2 separate regions of the Homo sapiens genome follow, and region 1 is linked to region 2. The links come from fine-mapping of genetic effects on gene expression. A gene starts in region 2. The other region holds a variant in brackets. All regions are shown on one strand. Distances are between the middles of the regions. Region 1 overlaps TRPM4 (transient receptor potential cation channel subfamily M member 4). Region 2 holds the start of TRPM4 (transient receptor potential cation channel subfamily M member 4).

Evidence for each region. PIP is the estimated chance that this variant, and not a neighbour inherited with it, causes the effect.
Region 1: its variant is fine-mapped to the expression of TRPM4 in whole blood (TOPMed, PIP above 0.99).

Annotation. Positions count from the first base shown.
Region 1 is chr19:49,196,813-49,207,796 of GRCh38, forward strand. It overlaps TRPM4 (transient receptor potential cation channel subfamily M member 4), which reads left to right. Exons shown (of 25, transcript NM_017636.4): 17 at 1-62; 18 at 3,488-3,620; 19 at 3,799-3,973; 20 at 5,152-5,329. Among named protein-coding and RNA genes, the nearest start is that of TRPM4, 45 kb to the left of the region's middle. RefSeq lists a silencer at 1-273. The variant CA/C (reference allele first, on the strand shown) is at 5,047.
Region 2 is chr19:49,154,136-49,164,650 of GRCh38, forward strand. TRPM4 (transient receptor potential cation channel subfamily M member 4) reads left to right here and starts at 3,657. Exons shown (of 25, transcript NM_017636.4): 1 at 3,657-3,755; 2 at 4,057-4,124. The coding sequence starts at 3,732. It overlaps HRC (histidine rich calcium binding protein), which reads right to left and starts at 1,261. Exons shown (of 6, transcript NM_002152.3): 1 at 1-1,261. The coding sequence starts at 1,102. RefSeq lists an enhancer at 3,391-4,012 and a silencer at 4,696-4,882.

The DNA of each region.
Region 1 (10,984 bases), 43 kb after region 2:
GACAGCTGGAACCAGTGCGACCTAGTGGCTCTCACCTGCTTCCTCCTGGGCGTGGGCTGCCGGTGAGTGCCCCGGGGCCTTGGAACCCTGGCCCCTGGCCACCTCTCATCCTTCCTGCCCACTCCCGGGGTCTCCACTCCCGGCTTCCCCGCAGCTGGGCAGCAGGTCAAGCCAACCCTGCTGATTGAGAACCCCTCTTAGGAAAGTCGGGCATGACGATTGCCCCAGGGTAATTGGCTGGCACCTGGAGATCTGGCTTCAGGGACGGCAGGATTCAGGAGAAAACCCCACTGTCCGCCACTCAGCCTCTGCTGCTATTTATTGCTAGGCCTGAAGTTTAACAGATATTTATGGGAGCGCCCCGACCTGGGTGCCAACCTCACCTCCTCCCTTCTCTTCCTCCACATAGCTCGTTGGTCCCAGGCCCCTTGCCCTCCTGCCCCCGACTTTTTCTTTCTTTCCTTTTTTTTTCTTTCTTTCTTTCTCTTTCTTTCTTTTTCTTTCTTTCTTTCTTTCTTTCTTTCTTTCTTTCTTTCTTTCTTTCTTTCTTTCTCTCTCTTTCTTTTCTTTCTTTCTCTTTTCTTTTCCTTTCTTTTCTTTTTCTTTTTCTCTTTTCTTTCTCTCTCTCTCCCTCTGTCCTCTGCCCCTCTGCCTCCCTCCCTCCTTCCTTCCTTCCTTCCTTCCTTCCTTCCTTCCTTCCTTCTATGCTTCCTTCCATCCCTCCAAGCTAAGGGTTTAACCCTTGCCCTGCCTGCATTATGGAGTATCCTGCATTAGGATACTCCTCCTTTTGAGGAGAGCAAACAGAAAAGTTTGTGGATACAACCTGGTGACTGGTTTTTTGTTTGTTTGTTTGTTTTTGTTTTCTTTCTTTTCTTTTTTTTTTTTGAGCCAGAGTTCCGCTGTGTCGCCCAGACTGGAGTGCAGTGGTACGATCTTGGCTCACTGCAACCTCCACCTCCTGGGTTCAAGCGATTCTCTTGCCTCAGCCTCGTGAGTAGCTGGGATTACAGGCATGCACCACTACACCTAGCTAAATTTTTTTTGTATTTTTTTTGTAGAGATGGGGCTTTGCCATATTGACCAGGCTGGTCTTGAACTCTTGGCCTCAAGTGATCCACTGGCCTTAGCCTCTGAAAGTGCTGAGATTACAGATGTGGGTCACCGTGCCTGGCCAACAACCTGGTGACTGTTTACAAGGGACCTGACACATCCTGAATGGTTGACAGTGATGACAGTGATGATCCCTACTCAAGCTTTTCCCAGTAGACACGCTGAGAGGCAGGCTTCCTCTAAGCTATGTTAGCAGTGTTACAAAGTGATTCAACATAAATAATTTATTCAAGCAGGGAGCAAGATATGAGAGTTTTGCAGAACACTAATACTTCTGTTTGTAATTTGTTGTATTTTGTATAAAGTGACTTTTGAGATGAAAGGGCTAAGGCCATATGCTACCATGCTCTAGGATTGCCAGTGATATTTTGGACAGTTTATCAAGCCTACCACTTTCCAGGTGAAAAATGGAAAGATCTCAGCTTAAAAGGGAGAAACGGGCCTGGCGTGGTGGCTCATGCCTGTAATCCCAGCACTTTGGGAGGCCGAGGCGGGTGGATCACCTGAGATCAGGAGTTTGAGACCAGCCTGCCCAACATGGTGAAACCCCATCTCTACTAAAAATACAAAAAATTAGCCGGGCATGGTGGCAGGCGCCTGTAATCCCAGCTACTCGGGAGGCTGAGGCAGGATAATTGCCTGAACCTGGGAGGCGGAGGTTGCAGTGAGCCAAGATCATGCCACTGCACTCTAGCCTGGGTGAAAAGAGCAAAACTCTGTCAAAAAAAAAAAAAAAAAAAAAAGGGAGAAATGTCTAATCATCTCCGGAATTGAATGGATGAATCATCCTTTGTTTCGCCAGTTCCCTCTAGATGGACATTTAGGTTCTCTCTTTCTTTCTTTTTTTGTTTTAAATAGAGACAGGGTCTCACTCTGTTGCCCAGGCTGGTCTCAAACTCCAGGGCTCAAGCAATCCTCCCACCTTGGCCTCTCAAAGTGCTGGGATTACAGGCGTGAGCTACTATGCTCAGCCTTCTGTTTTTTTATTATTCCAAAATAATAAAAGTTTACATCCCAGATGTAAAGTTTATGGGTCAAAGGGTACATTTATTTTTGACATGGATAGATTTCCTTCTAAGTAGCTTCACTCATTTCCACACCTGCCATCAGGGTAAGAGAGTGCCCCCTTGAGGCCATGCTCGACAATGCCTGATACTTTCACTCTAAAATGTAGCTCTCAATTTAACTGAAAAAAAATTTGCCAATTTAATGGGTAAACATGACCTCTCCTTGTTATAATTTATGCACTCTTGACTACCAGATAGGTTGGACATCTTTTCCTAAGCTTAATGGCCATATGTCCTTGTGCCCCCTTGTTTTTTTTTTGGTTTTTGTTTTTGTTTTTGTTTTTGAGACGGAGTCTCGCTCTGTAGCCCAGGCTGGAGTGCAGTGGCGCGATCTCGGCTCACTGCAACCTCCGCCTCCCGGGTTCACGCCATTCTCCTGCCTCAGCCTACTGAGTAGCTGGGACTACAGGTGCCTGCCTCCACGCCCGGCTAATTTTTTGTATTTTGTAGTAGAGACGGGGTTTCACCGTGTTAGCCAAGATGTTCTCGATCTCCTGACCCCGTGATCCGCCCGCCTCGGCCTCCCAAAGTGCTAGGATTACAGGCGTGAGCCACTGCGACCGGCCACCCTCCCGTTTTTTTAATTGGGGTTCATTGATTTGTATATGTATAAATGTATATACTCCTTATACTCTGGATCCTAATCCTCGGTAGTTTTGTTGGTCTTAATATCTTCATATCTTCTCGAAGTCTGTGGCTTGTCTTTTCACTTTCACTTTTGTATGTTTCTTTTCTTTTCTTTTTTTTGAGCCTGCCTCGGCCTCCCAAAGTGCTGGGATTACAGGCGTGAGCCACCGCGTCTGTCCATACACTAGGTTTTTAATCCATCCAAAGTTTAAGTACATGAGGATGCAAAATAGGGGTAGAATTTTTATTTTCCCCATAGGAATTATTGATGTTTACTGGCCGTTTGAACGTCCTCTGTGAATTGTACGTGGTATCCTTTATCTGGCTTCCTTCCTTTTGCGTATTAGTTTGTAAGGACTCTATATGTTTTGCCTTTTATAGGTTGGACAGATATTCCGGCAGTTTTTCCAGCTTGATTCTTACAGGGACCAGCTCTTTGCTAAGGCCATCGTTCATTCAGTCATTACTTAATAGGCGCAGCCATTTTAAAAATGGGTGCCAGGGCCCTGCATGGACCAGCTTGGTACTGAATAAATTTGAGTAAACCCCGGGTGACTGGGAGGGTCCTGGTCCTGCCCGGTGGAGGCTGCAGCTTCCTCTGAAGGATGGCATTGGGAAGACTTCCATTTTCCTTGGCGTCTTGTGACACTTGACCCTTGTGGCATCTCCCCACACCCCAGGCTGACCCCGGGTTTGTACCACCTGGGCCGCACTGTCCTCTGCATCGACTTCATGGTTTTCACGGTGCGGCTGCTTCACATCTTCACGGTCAACAAACAGCTGGGGCCCAAGATCGTCATCGTGAGCAAGATGGTGAGGCAGGGGCGGGGCCAAAGTGGGCGGGGACATAGGGAAAGGGGTGGGGCCAGGGAGGGAGTGGTCCGTGGAGAAGGGGCGTGACTTTGGGGAGCAATGGGGCGTGTTTTTGGGATATAGGGGTGGGGCCAGAGTAGGAAAGGGCGGGGCCAGACTCAGCCACATCTCCCCACAGATGAAGGACGTGTTCTTCTTCCTCTTCTTCCTCGGCGTGTGGCTGGTAGCCTATGGCGTGGCCACGGAGGGGCTCCTGAGGCCACGGGACAGTGACTTCCCAAGTATCCTGCGCCGCGTCTTCTACCGTCCCTACCTGCAGATCTTCGGGCAGATTCCCCAGGAGGACATGGACGGTAGGGGGGATGACGGCCTGACAGCCTTCCTCTGAGTCTCTGTCCCCGCTCCCTGGGTCTCTGTCCTCCTGGCTCTAAGAAAATATCTGTCTCTCTGAGTCTCTGTCTCCCTCTTTCTCTGGATCTCTGAGTGATACCCTATATTCCCCATCATCATCTCTCTGGGTCTCTGCCTACCCCACCCCCTCTGTCTTTCTGTCTGTCTTTCTTTTTTCTTTTTTTTTTTCTTTTTTTTTGAGATGGATGTTAGAAATGTTTATTTTGTGGTGTCGTAAAGAAATAGTACTTGAACATAAATTTAATTTTTTTAGTAAAGCCATTTTTATTTTTTGTAGAAAGGGTACACTCGCCAGCAGTTTTGTCATGAGAGTACACGGAACAAAGGAGATAGGGTCATTTATAACCTGACGCGTCTATTTTACTGCTGTGTCTGGTTTTTATTGGCTGGAACCGGACTTTACATTTTGTATTTGTCTTGATTGGCTAGTAACTTAGAAGTTTTTAAAAGAAGCGAAGGCAGAGGAGAACAAAGGAAGGAGGAAGTAACTTGTGGAATGTTGAGAAAGGTAAAAACACTTTTAAATAAGGAAGAGGAACAGGCTATGATCTAATGCTTGCTTGAACCAGTATAAGTATGTCAGGGCAAATATTTAGGCTAAATTGTGAGAGCTAAGAACATAAAGTACATTGATTTATTTTTTATGGCTAGTAGATATTTAAGAATGTTAGCACAGGTGTTTGAATAAATTTTGTTTCTAAGAGAAGTTACTATTTATTGTTAATTAGATGGGGAGGAAAGTCTTTGAAGAGGAACCTGTACTTTACTTTTTACATGGAGTTTTGCTCTTGTTGCCCAGGCTGGAGTGCAATGGCACGATCTCAGCTCACTGCAACCTCCACCTCCCAGATCGAAGCGATTCTCCTATCTCAGCCTCCCGAGTAGCTGGGACTACAGGCGCGTGCCACCACGCCTGGCTAACAGTTTTGTGTTTTTAGTAGAGATGGGGTTTCATCACATTGGTCAGGCTAGTCTCAAACTCCCCACCTCAGGTGATCCGGCCATCTCAGCCTCC[CA/C]AAAGTGCTGGGATTACAGGCGTGAGCCACCGCGCCCGGCAGTCTTCCTGTCTTTCTTAGGTCTCTGTCCCCCTCACCCCATCTCTGAATGTCTCTCTTCACAGTGGCCCTCATGGAGCACAGCAACTGCTCGTCGGAGCCCGGCTTCTGGGCACACCCTCCTGGGGCCCAGGCGGGCACCTGCGTCTCCCAGTATGCCAACTGGCTGGTGGTGCTGCTCCTCGTCATCTTCCTGCTCGTGGCCAACATCCTGCTGGTCAACTTGCTCATTGCCATGTTCAGGTGAGGCCTGACTGCTCTCTGATCTGACCCCACCCAGCATGACCCGTGGCCCTCTCATGACTCTTGAACCCCGTCTAATGAATTCTGTTTTTAGTCCCTGAACTCTGATCCAATCTAATGCTGCCTTCTCCCCAAACCCAACCAGACCCTGCTTGTAATTTGGACTTTGGACTGATCCTCTCCCTGAGCCCAGGTTGAACTTCCTTATTTGTATTTTTTTGAGACAGGGTCTCACTCTGTCGCCAAGGCTAGAGTGTGGTGATGTGATCGTAGCTTACTGCAGCCTCGACCTCCTGGACTCAAGCAATCCTCCTGCCTTCGCCCCATAAGTAGCTGGGACTACTTAAAATTAGCCAGGCCAGCAGGCCTGCCTAATTTAAAAAAATTTTTGGAGAGAGGGGTCTCACTATGTTGTCCATGCTAGTCTCGAGCTCCTGGACTCAAGTGATCCTCCCTCCTCAGCCTCCCAAAGTGCTGGGATAATCTGTCACCTAGGCTGGAGTGTAGTGGCAAGTTCTCAGCTCACTGCAACCTCCACTTCCCACTCCCCCATACCCAGTTAATTTTTTGTATTTGTAGTAGAGATAGGGTTTCACCATGTTGGCCTTGAACTCTTGACCTCAAGTGATTGGCCCACCTCAGCCTCCCAAAGTGTTGGGATTACAGGTGTGAGCCATCGCGCCCAGCCAACTTTGTTTTTTATTGTGGTAAAATTATATAAAATTTTCCATTTTTACTTCTTTTTTTTTTTTTTTTTTTTTGACGGAGTCTCGCTGTGTCACCCAGGCTAGAGTGCAGTGGCACGATCTCACAATCTCAGCTCACTACAAGCTCCGCCACCCGGGTTCACGCCATTCTCCTACCTCAGCCTCCTGAGTAGCTGGGACTACAGGTGCCCGCCACCACGCCCAGCTAATTTTTTTGTATTTTTAGTAGAGACGGAGTTTCACCGTGTTAACCCGGATGGTCTCAATCTCCTGACCTCGTGATCCACCCGCCTTGGCCTCCCAAAGTGCTAGGATTACAGGCGTGAGCCACCGCGCCCCGCCTTTTTTTGAGATGGAGTCTCGCTCTGTCGCCCAGGCTGGAGTGCAATGGTGCAATCTCAGCTTACTGCAACCTCCACCTCCCAGGTTCAAGCGATTCTCCTGCCTCAGCCTCCCAAGTAGCTAGGACTACAGGCGTGCGCCACCACACCTGGCTAATTTTTTGTATTTTTAGTAGAGATGGGGTTTCACCGTGTTAGCCAGGATGGTTTCGATCTCCTGACCTTGTGATCCGCCCGCCTTGGCCTCCCAGAGTGCTGGGATTACTGACATGAGCCACCGCGGCCGGAGTTGATTTTTACCATTTTTAAGTGTACAAGTCAGTGACATTAATTACATTTACAGTACTCTCCAACCATCACCACTATCTATTTTCAATACGTTCTATCACCCAGAACAGAAAGTGTGTCCCCATGAAACAGCAACTCCCCACTTCCCCTCCCCACAGGTCTTAGTAACCTCCAGTGTATTTTCTGTCTCTATGGATTTAGTCTAGATGTTTCATGTAAGTGGAATTATGCGATATTTGTCTTTTGGTGTCTGGCTGATTTTACTGAGCATGTTTTCAAGGCTCATCCCTGTTGTAGTGTGCATCAGAACTTCATTCATTCCGTTTTATGAATGAGTAATATTCTATTGTACAAATAGACCACATTTGGGCCCAGCGTGGTGGCTCATGCCTGTAATCCCAGCACTTTGGGAGGCCTAGGCGGGTGGATCACCTGAGGTCAGGAGTTCGAGACCAGCCTGGCCAACGTGGCAGGACCCCCTTTTTACTAAAAATACAAAAATTAGCTGGGCTCATGTCTGTAATTCCAGCTACTTGGGAGGCTCAGGCACGAGAGTCGCTTGAACCCAGGAGGCGGAGGCTACAGTGAGCCAAGATCGTGCCACTGCACTCCAGCCTGGGCAACAGAGCGAGACTCCATCTCAAAAAAAGAAGACCACATTTGATTTACCCGCTCATCTGTTGATGAACACTTGGGTTCTTTCTGCCTTTTGGCTATTGTGACTAATGTTTGTTGGAACATTGGCATGCAAGTATCTATTTGAATCCTTGTTTTTATTTCCTTTGGGTGTGTATCTCAAAGTGGAATTCCTCGGTCATGTGGTAATTCTATGTATAGCTTTTTGAGAAACCACCAAACTGGTTTCCACAGCAGCTGCACCATTTTCCATTCTCACCAGCAGTGTATGAGGGTTTTAATTTCTCCACATCCTAGCCAACACTTGTTATTTTCCTTTTGTAAAAATTATAGTCATCCAGCTGGGTGTAGTGGCTCATGCCTGTAATCCCAGCACTTTGGGGGGCTGAGGTGGGAGGATTGCTTGAGCACAAGAGTTCGAGACCAGCCTGGGCAACATAGCGAGGCTGCTGTCTCTACCAAAACACCAGAAATGAGATACCACTTCACACCTGCAGCCTCAACCTCCTGGGCTCAAGTGATCCTCCCACCTCAGCCTCCCAAGTAGCTGGGACTACAGTTACGTGCCACCATACCTGGCTTGTTTTTTTAATTTTTTTTTTACTTTTATTTTATTTATTTATTTTTAGTAGAAACGGGGTTTCACCATGTTATCCAGGATGGTCTCGATCTCCTGACCTTGTGATCCACCCATCTCGGCTGGATCCCAAAGTGCTGGGATTACAGGCGTGAGCCACCGTGCCCAGCGGCTATTTTTTTTTTTTTTAATGAAACTCCTTTTTAATCCTATGTTAGGTCTCTCTGTTTGCTTCCTTTCTTGTTGGCATGATTTTTGCTGAGAAAATATAAAATTTCATTGGCTTTGGTTGTTTTTTTTTTTTTTTTTTTTTCAGAGATGGGGTCTTACTATATTGCCCAGGCTGATCTTGAACCCCTGGGCTCAAGCAGTCCTCTTGCCTTGGCCTTCCAAAGTGCTGGGATTATAGGCACAAGCCCCTGTGCTGGACCTATTGTATTAGTTTCCTAGGGCCGCCAGAGTACCAAAAACTGTGTGGCTTTAAATCACAGAAATTGTCTCACAATTCTGGATGCTAGAGGTCCAAAATCAAGGCATCCGTCAAGCTGTTTTCTTCTGAGGGATGTCGGGGAGAGTCTGTTCCATGCCCCTCCTGTCACGTCTAGTGCTTTGCTGGCCATCTTTGGCTTCTAGTTGCGTCATTGAAACTTCTGCTTTCATCTTCCAGATTTCCCCTTTTAATAAAACGTTACTTAAATTGGATTAGGGACCATGCTAATAACTTCATTTTAACTTGATCACATGTGTAAACTCTATTTCCGAATAAAGCCACATATTTCATAAATAAAAAATTTAAAAAGGTCTCATTCTGAGGCACTATGGGTTATGACTTCAACTTTTTTTTTTTTTTTTTTTTTTTTTTGGAGACAGAGTCTTGCTCTGTCACCCAGGTTGGAGTGCAATGGCGTGATCTCGGCTCACTGCAACCTCCACCTCCTGGGTTCAAGGGATTCTCCTGCCTCAGCCTCCCGAGTAGCTGGGATTACAGGTGCCTGCCACTATACACAGCTAATTTTTGTATTTTTAGTAGGGACGGGGTTTCACCATGTTGCCCAGGCCGATCTCAAACTCCTGACCTCAGGTGATGCACCTGCCTCGGCCTCCCAAAGTGCTGGGATTACAGCCGTGAGCCACTGGACCCGGCCGGACTTCAACATATCTTTAGCGGGATACAATTCAATGCATGACACTCATAGATTTATGAGTTTATTTCTGGACTTTCAATTCTATTCCACTGGATTGCGTCTATCCTTATGCCAGAACCACACAGTTTTTTGGGTTTTTTTTGAGACGGAGTCTCGCTCTTGTCACCCAGGCGGGATTGCAGTGGCACGATCTCTGCTCACTGCAACATCCGCATCCTGGATTCAAACGATTCTCCTAACTCAGCCTCCTGAGTAGCTGGGATTACAGGCACCTGCCACCACGCCCGGCTAATTTTTTTGTATTTTTGGTAGAGACAGGGTTTCACCATGTTGGCCAGGCTAGTCTTGAACTCCTGACCTCAGGTGATCTGCCTCGGCTTTCCAAGGTGCTGGGATTACAGGCGTGAGCCACCATGTCTAGCCCACACAGTGTTGATTACTGTAGGTTTGTAGCAAATTTTGACATTGGAAGTATGAGTCTCCTTTGTTATTTTTCAAGATTGTTTTGGCTATTCTGGGCCTCCTGCAATTCTATATGAACTTAAAGATCAGAGTTTCCATGTCTGTCAAAAAGGTTGTTGGAATTTTCTTTTTTTTTCCTTTTTTTTTTTTCTTTTTTTTGAGACAGAGTTTCACTCTTGTTGCCCAGGCTGGAGTGCAATGGCGCGATCTCAGCTCACCACAACCTCTGCCTCCCGGGCTCAAGCGATTCTCCTGCCTCAGCCTCCTGAGTAGCTGGGCTTATAGGCATGTGCCACCACGCCCGGCTAATTTTGTATTTTTAGTAGAGACAGGGTTTCTCCATGTTGGTCAGGCTGGTCTCGAACTCCCGACCTCAGGTGATCCACCCGCCTTGGCCTCCCAAAGTTCTGGGATTACAGGTGTGAGCCACCGCGCCCGGCCAGTTGTTGGAATTTTCCGAGGGATTGCGTTGAATCTGTAGATTGCTTCGGGTAGTATTGATATTTCATCTAGGTGTTCTTTTTAATGCTTTTCCAGCAGTATTTGGTAGTTTTCAGGCTACAAATTGTTCACCCTTTTGGTTAACTTTATTCCTAGGTGCTTAACCTTTAGATACTGTTGTAAGTGGAATTGCTTTCTTAATTTCCTTTTTGGATTGTTCATTGCGGGTGTGTAGAAACACAACTGATTTTTGTGTGATCTTGTACCCTGCAACTTTGCTGAATCTGCAGCCCTAGAAGCTTTCTTGTGATTCTCTGGCATTTCCTATATATAGGATCATGTCATCTGTGAATAGAGATATTTTTACTTCTTCCTTTCCAATTTGGATGCCTTTTATTTTTTTTCTTGTTTAATTGTTCTAGCCAGAACTTCCAGCACAATGTGGAATAGCAGTGGTAAAAGTGGACATCCTTGTCTTGTCCCTGATCTTAGGCAGAAAGCTTTCACTCTTTCACCATTGGGTATGACGGTAGCTGTGGGTTTTTCAGAAGTACCTTTTCTCATGTTGAGAAAGTTTATTTCTATTCCTAGTTTACGATTTTTAAAAATTATGATGCATGGTGGCTTGTGCCTGCAATCACAATACTTTAGGGAGCCAAAGTGGGAGGATCACTTGAGGCCAGGAGTTCAAGACCGACCTGGGCAACATAGTGAGACCTTATCTCAATAAAAAAATAAAAAATTTGCCAGGCGTGGTGGTGCATGCCTGTAGTCCCAGCTACTCAAGAGGCTGAGGTGGGAGGAAGGCTTGAGCCCAGGAGGTCAAGGCTGTGGCTTCAGTGAGCCATGATTTCACCACCATCATGATTGTGCCACCAACAGAGTGAAACCTTGTCTCAAAAAAAAAAAAAAAAAAAAAAAGCCATGCATGGTGGCTCAAGCCTGCAATCCCAGCACTTTGGGAGGCCGAGGTGGGCAGATCATGAGGTCAGGAGATCGAGACCATCCTGGCTAACACGGTTGTAGGGGCCAGCCCTACAAGGTCTGTGGGTTTTTCT
Region 2 (10,515 bases):
GTTGGGGACCCTGGTGCCAACGTTCAGTGGACACATCCTCATCTTCTTCCTCGTCTCTGTGGCCTTGGTGCCTGTGGTCAGGGACATGATGGTGGTGTTCACCTGAGACAGCCTCAACCTCTTCCTTTCTGTGGTCTTGGTGCCTGTGGGCCTGGTGTCCATACTCAGTGGAGACATCATCATCATCATTGTCATCTTCTTCATGGCTTCGGTGCCTGTGGCTGGGGTCGCGATGATGGTGTCCATCTGAGACATCTTCATCCTCTTCAATCCCGTGGCCTTGGTGCCTGTGAGCCTGGTGTCTATATTCAATGGAGACATCATCATCATCATCATCATCATCATCATCATCATCATCATCGTCATCTTCTTCATGGCCTTGGTGCCTGTGGCTGGGGCCATGATGATGGTGTCCATCTGAGACATCCTCATCCTCTTCACTCCCATGGCCTCGGTGCCTGTGGGCCTGGTGTCCATACTCAGTGGAGGCCTCCTCTTCCTCCTCCTCCTCCTCCTCCTCCTCTTCTCCTTCATCATCTTCCCCATCATGGCCTCGGTGTCCATGCCTGAGGATATGATGGTGATGCTCACTGGACACAACTTCATCCTCATCCTCGTCTTGATGGCTGTGGCTCCTGTGGCTGGGGAGGTGGTGCCTGTGCTCAGCTGAGTCTTCCGTGTCTTCACTCCCGTGGCCTCTGTGCCCACGGGCCTGCCCACCATGCTCTGCAAAGACCTCCTCACCTGAGACACCCTCATCTCCGACTTTGTGGTCTTGGGACCTGTGGCCTGGGAGTAGGTGCCCATATTCCTTGGAGACATCTTCATCCTCCTTTTCACGGTCTGGGTGGCTCCAGAAATGATGCCCATTCTCTGTGGAAACATCCTTGTTCTCATCTGGATGGTCTCTAGGGCTGTGGAGGTGGTGGCGAAGCTCTGCTGATGCCTCCTCGGAGAGCCCGGCGACTCCAGTGCTGTTGTTCCGGTTTCTGAAGCCTAGCCCATCCCCTCTGAGCTGCTGGGTCATGGCCGGGGGGAGGAGCAGGCTGGCCACCCCAGCCCAGAGGACAGAAGCGTGCAGCCATGGCCTATGGTGGCCCATGGGGACGGACAGGCAGCACTGGCTCCAGCTGCCTCTGCGGCAATGTGGACAAACGTTGGGGTCTTTGTCCCTTTGGGGTTGGTCTCTTTTTTTCTCTGTGTCTCTCCTTTGTCCTTTCGGTCTCTGTCCACCTTCCTCTGGTCCTTGCTGCCTGGCTCTGGACACCCCTCTGAGGCTGTCTCCGGAGCCCCCTGACCCCCCTCTGGGGCCCTCCCTCCCCATTCCCCAGCCAATAGGGTCCTTCCCCTCCCCTCTCTCCAGCTAAATTTACTCTCAGCCCTGAGTTATTCTGGGTCAGTCCCCGCCTGCCTGCCTCCTGCTCCTCCTCCTCCCAGCTGGGGAGGGGACCAGTGAGGGGTCTCTCCCTGGCCAGGAGACGGTGGCCAAGGGACTTGACTTTGAACTACCAACAAGCTCACGTTTGGCAGCTGCAAAGACAAAGGCTAGACTTTTAGCAGGTTTTTGGGGGAGCCTGGGGCACCTGGGGGAGGCAGAAGAGACTTATCAGAGGGGAGAGACTCCTGGGACGGAAGGACTGGGGGTTCGATTGCGGGGTGTTTCCAGCTGGAATGATACGTGCTGGTGAGAGAGTGATGTCAGTATTGAGGCCCTAGAATGGGGGGAAAGGAACATGGCCCCCAACACACGTGCCCATGACCTCCTGTCCCTGGAACTCAGATCTGGGGGCAGGGACTGGGCTAGGCCAGGGCTATAAATACAGCTGGGAGGGGTAGGGGGACTCAGGTTACGGAGGCCACAGCTGTCCCCATCACAGAGGGCTGGCAGGAGACAAGTGGCCTTGCCCGTCTCTGTGTGTCAGTATTTCCTACTCCTCACCCTTCATGACTGCCCCCACTAGGGTCTCCTTTCCTGTTCACGGGTCCTCCTCTCTCTTCAATTCTGTCATCTGCTCTCTCAGGGTCCCTGTCCCTCCTCCATGGGATTGCCTCTCCCTCTCACTCTGGGCTTCTGTCCCACTCTTATCTTAGTGTCAGTCCTCCCCCAAGTCTGTGTCCCTCTCTCTCCCCTAAATCTCTGGCCCCTCCTTTCTGAGTTCCTGCCCTTCCCCCAATTCTTTGGTTTTTGCATCCCCCTCTGCCCCTTGCCTCAGTCAAGGTGTCTCCTCCCCATCTCTGGCATCCACCTCTCTGGGTCTCTGTCCCCACTCTCTCTCAGAGTCTCTGTCCCCCTCTGTCTCAGAGTCTCTGTCCACCTCTCCCTGGGTCTCTGTCCCCCTCTCTCTGGGTCTCTGTCCCCCTCTCCCTGGGTCTCTGTCCCCCTCTCTCTGTGGATCTCTGTCCCCCTCTCTCTGGGTCTCTGTTCCCCTCTCTCTGTGGGTCTCTGTCCCCCTCTCTCTGTGGATCTCTGTCCCCCTCTCTCTGGGTCTCTGTTCCCCTCTCTCTGTGGGTCTCTGTCCCCCTCTCTCTCTGGGTCTCTGTTCCCCTCTCTCTGGGTCTCTGTCCCCCTCTCTCAGGGTCTCTGTCCCCCTCTGTCTCAGAGTCTCTGTCCCCCTCTCTCTGGGTCTCTGTCCCCTCTCCCTGGGTCTCTGTACCCCTCTCCGTGGGTCTCTGTCCCCTCTCCCTGGGTCTCTGTCCCCCCATCCCTGGGTCTCTGTCCCCCCCTCTCTGGGTCTCTGTCCCCCTCTCTCTGGGTCTCTGTCCTCCTCTCTCTCTGGGTCTCTGTTCCCCTCTCTCTGGGTCTCTGTCCCCCTCTCTCTGGGTCTCTGTCCCCGTCTCTCTGGGTCTCTGTCCCCCTCTCTCTGGGTCTCTGTCCTCCTCTCTCTCTGGGTCTCTGTTCCCCTCTCTCTGGGTCTCTGTCCCCCTCTCTCTGGGTCTCTGTCCCCGTCTCTCTGGGTCTCTGTCCCCCTCTCTCTGGGTCTCTGTCCCCCTCTCTCTGGGTCTCTGTCCCCTCTCCCTGGGTCTCTGTCCCCCTCTCCGTGGGTCTCTGTCCCCTCTCCCTGGGTCTCTGTCCCCCCCTCCCTGGGTCTCTGTCCCCCCCTCTCTGGGTCTCTGTCCCCCCCTCTCTGGGTCTCTGTCCTCCTCTCCCTGGGTCTCTGTCCCCCTCTCTCTGTGGGTCTCTGTCCCACTCTCTCTGGGTCTCTGTCCCACTCTCTCTGGGTCTCTGTCCCCTCTCCCTGGGTCTCTGTCCCCCTCTCTCTGTGGGTCTCTGTCCCCCTCTCTCTCTGTCTATCCCTGGGTCCCTGCTGCCCCACCTTCTGATTCTCTGTCCCCTAAGTCTTTGTCTCCCCCTCTTTGGGTTAAATTGTCCCCTCCCTGTCTGGCATCCTCCTTTCTGAGTCTGTTCCCTCTCCGCCACTGGCCCCCAACTCCTTCTGTTCCCATCTCGCGCTTGCCCTTGGAGTCTCCCCTGTGTGTCTCTCTCCCCCCGGCCCGGACCTCTGCACCCCCCAGGTCGCTGTCCCTCTGTCCCCTTATCGCGGCCTGGGACCCGCCCTCTCCCCGCCTCCCGCTTTGGCGTCTCCAAGACTCCCCGCCCCCCAGACCTCGCCCCGCCCCAGGCTAGGCTGGAAAGTGGAGGATCCGGTTTGCTCTGGGCGGGTCTGGAAGCAGAGCCGGCGGAGGGAGCGCCGGGGCCCTGGGCTGCAGGAGGTTGCGGCGGCCGCGGCAGCATGGTGGTGCCGGAGAAGGAGCAGGTGAGCGCCGGACCAGGGTCTGCGGGAGCGCGGAGCTGGGGACCTCGCCTCCAGGCTCCCAGAGAGGAGGGCGCTGGACACCCAGATTCCTGGGTCAGACGGAGGAGGGGGATGGGAGGGTCCAGGTTCCAGGGTCCAGGGCATGGGGGTCGAGACTCCTGAGTCTGGAGCGGGAGGGCGCTGGGGGCCCGGACTCCTGTGTCCGTGGGGAGCGCACGGGGTGGGTGGCTCTGTGTCCCATAGGACAGAACTGGGTGCCCTCTCACCCCACTTCCACCCCTACATTTGTTCCTGTCCCCAGAGCTGGATCCCCAAGATCTTCAAGAAGAAGACCTGCACGACGTTCATAGTTGACTCCACAGATCCGGGGTGAGGAGTTCGCCCCTGGACTGACCCCAGAGGGTCCGCGGCCCGCTGACCCCGCCCGCGGATGGTCACGCCCCAGCCCTGCTCCTTCCCCATTCCTGGACTCGGGGACCTTCCCAAGGGCGTTCCTTGCCGACGCTCTCCCTCTAGGAGCGTTTGGGTCTGTGTAGACACCCCTCATTCCCCATTCGCCATTCTCCCGCTCAGGGTCAGTGTAGACGCTCCAGGGCTCGGTTCTGCTTCTTTCCTCCCCGATGTCTCTTCTATGTGCTTCTGTCTCTTCGTGTCACTTTCTGTGTCTCTGTCTTTCCCTTTTGGGTATTTCTGTTTCATTCATTCATTCATTCATTCATTCATTCATTCATCCATCCATGCAAGAAACCCTCACTCAGCGCTCCCAAGGTCCCTTTAGCCTAATTCAACGGCCCTGCCAGGGTTCCAATTTCCCCTGGGACACGTGCTGTGTGGCTTCGGGCAAATCATTTCACCTCTCTGGGTCCCGTTTCTCATCTGGGCATCAAAAGAGGCTTGATCTCCTGGGGTTATTATGAGAATTAAACAAGTTAATGCTTGTGATATTCCTGGCACAGCGCCCAGCACAGGACGCTGGGAAATATCTGCAGCTCCCACTGGGAGGTGGCAATTATTACCGCGGGCGGGCCCTGTCTTGGTGGCCGGGGACACCAATTGAGCTAGATAGGGTGTGTGCGTCCGCGAGGAGCTCCCGCCCTTCAGTGACGGCCTCTCAAGCGGATCCAGGCTTTCTAGTTTTTTTTTTTTTTTTTTTTTTTTTGAGACGGTGTCTCGCTCTGTCCCCCAGGCTGGAGTGCAGTGGCGCGATCTCGGCTCACTGCAAGCTCCGCCTCCCGGGTTCACGCCGTTTTCCTGCCTCAGCCTCCCGAGTAGCTGGGACTACAGGCGCCCGCCACCACGCCCGGCTAATTTTTTGTATTTTAGTAGAGACGGGGTTTCACCGTGTTGGCCAGGATGATCTCGATCTCCTGACCTTGTGATCCGCCCGCCTCAGCCCCTCAAAGTACTGGGATTACAGGCGTGAGCCATCGCGCTGGGCCAATTTTTTGTATTTTTTTTTTAGTAGAGACGGGGTTGCACCGTGTTAGCCAGATGGTCTCGATCTCCTGACCTCATGATCCGCCGGCCTCGGCCTCCCAAAGCGCTAGGATTACAGGTGTGAGCCACCGCACCTGGCCCAGGCTTTCTAGTTTTTTGTTTTTTGTTTTTTTGAGACAGAGTCTGGCTCTGTCGCCCAGGCTGGAGTGCAGTGTTGCGATATCAGCTCACTGCAACATCCACCTCCTGGGTTCAAGCAGTTCTCATGCCTCAGCCTCCCTAGTAGCTGGGATTACAGGTGCCTACCACCATGCCCAGCTAATTTTTTGTATTTTAGTAGAGACGGGATTTCACCCTGTTGCCCAGGTTGGTCTTGAACTCTTGATCTCAGGCAATGCACCTGCCTTGGCTTTCCAAAGTACTGGGATTACAGGTGTGAGCCACCGCGCCCAGCCCTCTAGTTGTTTTTCAAGACAGTTTTTGGGGTGCGGGAAGTATCCACATTCCTACTTCAGTGTGTATTTTGTTATGACTATATATTAGTGCAGTATGGCTTGTAAATGATGGATAAATAAACAGATATGCGCTTGTTGGACGTGAGTGCTCAAAACCTTTTTACTGATAGGTCAGTGTGGTCAAGACAATTTAGGAAACTCTGGTCTGGCCTGAGGAGGAAGAAACGCAGAAGATAATTATAGTAAGGCAAGGGGTTGCAGCTCCCAAAGACGAGCCACTGGGCTCTGTGAGAGCTGGGAGGAGGTGTTTGCTTAAGACTGGGAGGGGACACAAAATGTCACTAATGGTTTCTGGAGGGAGGAAGAGTGGCTAGTGAGGTGACATTTGAAAGTGAGCTGGAGAGAGGCCCATGGAAAGCGATTTGGGGCCGGGCATTGTGGCTCACGCCTGTCATCCCAACAATCTGGGAGGCCGAGGCGGGTGGATCACCTAAGTCAGGAGTTCGAGACCAGCTTGGCTAACATGGTGCAACCCTATCTCTACTAAAAATACAAAAATTAACTGGGCGTATTGGCGCATGCCTGTAATCCCAGCTACTCAGGAGGCAGGAGAATCACTTAAACCTGGGAGACGGAGGCTACTATGAGCAGAGATCACGTCACTGCACTCCAGCCTGGGTGACAGAGCAAGACTCCATCTCAAAAAAAAAAAAAAAAAGAAAGAAAGAAAGAAAAAAGTGATTTGAACAGCATGTGCAAAGTCCTTGCTAAGGACCATATGGTTTGGCTTGAATATGAATCAAAGTTCAGGGTGCAGGGAGCACTGTCATGAGAGAAGAGGCTGCAGAGGAGGGCAGGGCCAGAGCTTGCAGGGTGTCAGAGGCCACCCTAAGGGGCTGGGATCTTGTCCTTGGGAGCTGGGGCATCACCGCAGCAGTGGGGTTGGCTCTGGGTGTGGAAAAACTTTCTGGGGCTGGGAGAGGATGAACAGGAGCTCGGGAGGAGGCTGTAGAGAGCGTCTGAGCGGGAGGGGTAGTGGCCTGAGCCAGGTCAGGGCTTTCGGGACACAGAGAGGAGGGCATGGGGCAAAGACTCAGGGGGCAGGAAGGCAGAGCTTGGGGCTTGATGAGGGTGATGAGGGAGAGAGGGGGTGCCGCCATCGGTGGATGGCTCCGGGACGTATGCTCTGCTGACTGGGACACAGTGGGGCTGTCCCTGAGATGGAGAGCTCAGGAGGGCAAGCAGGTTTGGGAAATGTCGCTGAGTGCAATGTGGGAATCTGTGCATATGAGCGGCCTAGGGGGACCGAGGGGCATGTGGGGACTGAGATTGGGAAAGGTCTGGACTAATGTCCAGAATCTGAGAGGTCCGAGTTGTAGCTGGTAATTGAAACTGGAAGTAGGTAAGACGTCACAGGGAAAACAACGTGTAAAGTCAGGGGAGTTGCAAACTGGCAATTCTATAGCCAATTGTGTGCGTGTGTTTGTGTGTGTGTGTGTTTAGAAGAGCATTTAAAAATATCTGTCTTCTGTCTCTCTCTCTTTTTTTTTTTTTTTTTTTTTTGAGACAGGGTCTTGCTCTGTTGTCCAGGCTGGAGTGGCACGATCATGGTTCACTGCAGCCTTGACCTGCTGGGCTCAAGCGATCCTCCCACATGAGCCTCCGGAGTAGCTGGGACCACAGGCATGCACCACCATGCCTGGCTAATTTTAAAATTTTTTGTAGAAACCGGGTCTCCCTTTGATACCAGACCAGGCTGGTATCCAACTCCTGGACTCAAGTGAGCCTCCCACCTCACTCTGCCTGCCAAAGTGCTGGAATTACAGGCGAGAGCCACCATACCCGGCTACCTCTTTTTTTTTTTTGAGACGGAGTCTCGCTCTATCACCCAGGCTGGAGTGCAGTAGTGCGATCTCGGCTCACTTCAACCTCTGCCTCCTGGGTTCAAGCGATTCTCCTGCCTCAGCCCCCCGAGTAGCTGGGATTACAGGCACCCACCATCACGCCTGGCTAATTTTTGTACTTTTAGTAGAGACAAGGTTTCACCATGTTGGCCAGGCTGATCTCGAACTCCTGACCTCAAGTGATCTGCCCACCTGGGCCTCCCAACGTGCTGGGATTACAGGTGTGAGCCACTGCTCCTGGCCCTGGCTACTTCTTTCTGTTGAGTTACTTGACTGGCCTCTGCACACATTGGGTTTGAGAATCATGTAGGGAAGGCTTGCACTGGGAACACCTACACTCAAGGGAGGTGAAAAGCAAGAGAAAGCCACAAACAAGTCAGGCATGAAGCAGCCGGGGCGGGGAGGAAGGCCAGAGGGGCAGGGGTATCCTGCCAAGGAGAGGGTTTCCAGAATGAGAGCCTTTCAGCTGTAGCCAGGGCCACTTGTGATACAGTCAGATGAAACCTGAATAAGGGCCGTTGTATATGGAGCCAGGCAGGAAATTGATGATTTTTATCAAGAACAATTTCAGGCCAGGCACAGTGACTCACAGCTGTAATCCCAGCAGTTTGAGAGGCCGAGGTGGGCTGATCACTTGAGGTCAGGAGTTTGAGACCAGCCTGGCCAATGTGGTAAAACCCCATCTCTACTAAAAATACAAAAACTAGCCAGGTACTGTGGCACATGCCTGTAATCCCAGCTACTCAGGATGCTGAGGCACGAGAGTCGCTTGAGCCCAGGTGGCAGAGGTTGCAGTGAGCTGAGATCGTACCACTGCATTCTAGCCTGGGAGACAGAGCGAGACTCCATCTCAAAACAAAACAAAACAAACAAACAAACAAAAAAACAATTTATTTCAGTTTCTGTGGCTCCACCGAGGAAAGAGTGTAGGAGGCAAGCTGTGCAGAAGGAATGGCTCCTAGCACTGAATGTCAGAATTTTCCACGATTTTGGAAACGTTCTATGTCTACATCCAATATGGCAGTCCTGGCCACAGGGGGCTACTGGGCACTTGGAATATGGCCATTGTACCTGAGAAACTGAATTTTTTTTTGAGGTGGAGTCTCGCTCTGTCGCCCAGGCTGGAGTGCAGTGGTGCAATCTTGGCTCACTGCAACCTCCGCCTCCCGGGTTCATGCCATTCTCCTGCCTCAGCCTCCCGAGTAGCTGGGACTACAGGCACCCGCCACCATGCCAAGCTGATTTTTGTATTTTTAGTAGAAACAGGGTTTCACCATGTTGGCCAGGCTGGTCTCAAAGTCCTGACCTCAGGTGATCCGCCCACCTTGGCCTCCCTAAGTTCTGGGATTACAGGCATGAACCACTGCACTTGACCTGAATTTTTTATTTGATTTAATTTTAACTTATTAGAACAGAAAGAGCTCCATGGCTACAAAGAACCCATGCAGCTATCACATTGGACAGTACAAGCTCCAGACTATTCCGTGAAGAGCTTTTATTTTATTATTATTATTTTTTTTTTTTTTTGAGGCAGAGTCTCATTCTGTTGCCCAGGCTGGAGTGCAGTGGCACAATCTCTGCTCATCACAACCTCCGTCTCCCAGGTTCAAGTGATTCTCCTGCCTCAGCCTCCTGAGTAGCTGGGACTACAGGCGCGTACCACCATGCCCGGCTAATTTTTGTATTTTTAGTAGAGATAAGGTTTCACTATGTTGGCCAGGCTGGTCTCGAACTCCTGACCTCATGATCCGCCCGCCTTGGCCTCCCAAAGTGCTGGGATTACAGTCATGAGCCACCATGCCCGGCCTTATTTCTTATTTTTAGTGACATGGTCTTGCTCTGTTGCCTAGCCTGAACTGCAGTGGTGTGATCATGGCTTATTGCAGCCTTGAACTCCTGAGCTCAAGTGATCCTCCTGCTACAGCCTCCTGAGTAGCTGGAACCACAGGCGTGCACCACCACACCTGGCTAATTAAAACAATTTTTTTTGTAGGGATGGGGTCTCGCTCTATTGCCCAGGCTGTTCTCAAACTCCTGGGCTCAAGCAGTCCTTCTGCCTTGACCTCCCAAAGTGCTTGGATTGTGCCCAGCCGTCCTTGAAGTTTTGCTCAGAAGAGCAAACTTTCTGGGAAGTAGCTGCAGGTGTTGGAAGTAGCTGCAGGGGAACTAGGGGATTCAAGGATGGAGCTGAAATGGGTGAACGGACAAAGTCGGTAAACTGAGGCATGCCAGGGCCCTGGAGGTAGACTCAGGAATGAAGAAGACACTTTATTGTAGTTCTCACTGTGCCAGGACCTGGCCTAAGTGTGTTTGGTTCATCCCATGTGTGGATCAGTTAGCCGTTCTTTTAGTGTCTTTACGGCTTTTGCCAAATCCTTGTAGCACCTCTGCTATCCCTTCTGTAAAATTGCTCTTAAATCTGCTCACTAGGTTTGTGTAAATACAGGTCTCCCCTGATATCTGAACTCCTGGAATCTGGAACAAAGAATTTAGATACATTTTTCTCCTTCTTTCTTCCTTTCTCTTTCTTTTCTTTTCTTTTCTCTCTCTCTTTCTTTCTTTCTCTCTTTCTCTTTCTTTCTCTCTCTTTCCCTCCCTCCCTCCCTCCCTTCCTTCCTTCCTTCCTTTCCTTCCTCCCTCTCTGTCTCTCTCCCTCCCTCCTTCCTTTCTTTCCTTAGTTTTTTTTTTTTTTTTTTTTTTTTTTTTTTTTTTGAGATGGAGTTTCGCTCTTGTCTCCCAGGCTGGAGTACAATAGTGTGATGGCTCACTGCAACTTCTGCCTCCTGGGTTCAACCAATTCTCCTGCCTCAGCCTTCTGAGTAGCTGGGATTACAGGCACCCGCCACCACGACCAGCTAATTTTTGTATTTTTTTTAGTACAGACAGTGTTTCACCATGTTGGCCAGTCTGGTCTCAAACTCTTGACCTCAGATGATCCACCCGCCTCAGCCTCCCAAAGTGCTG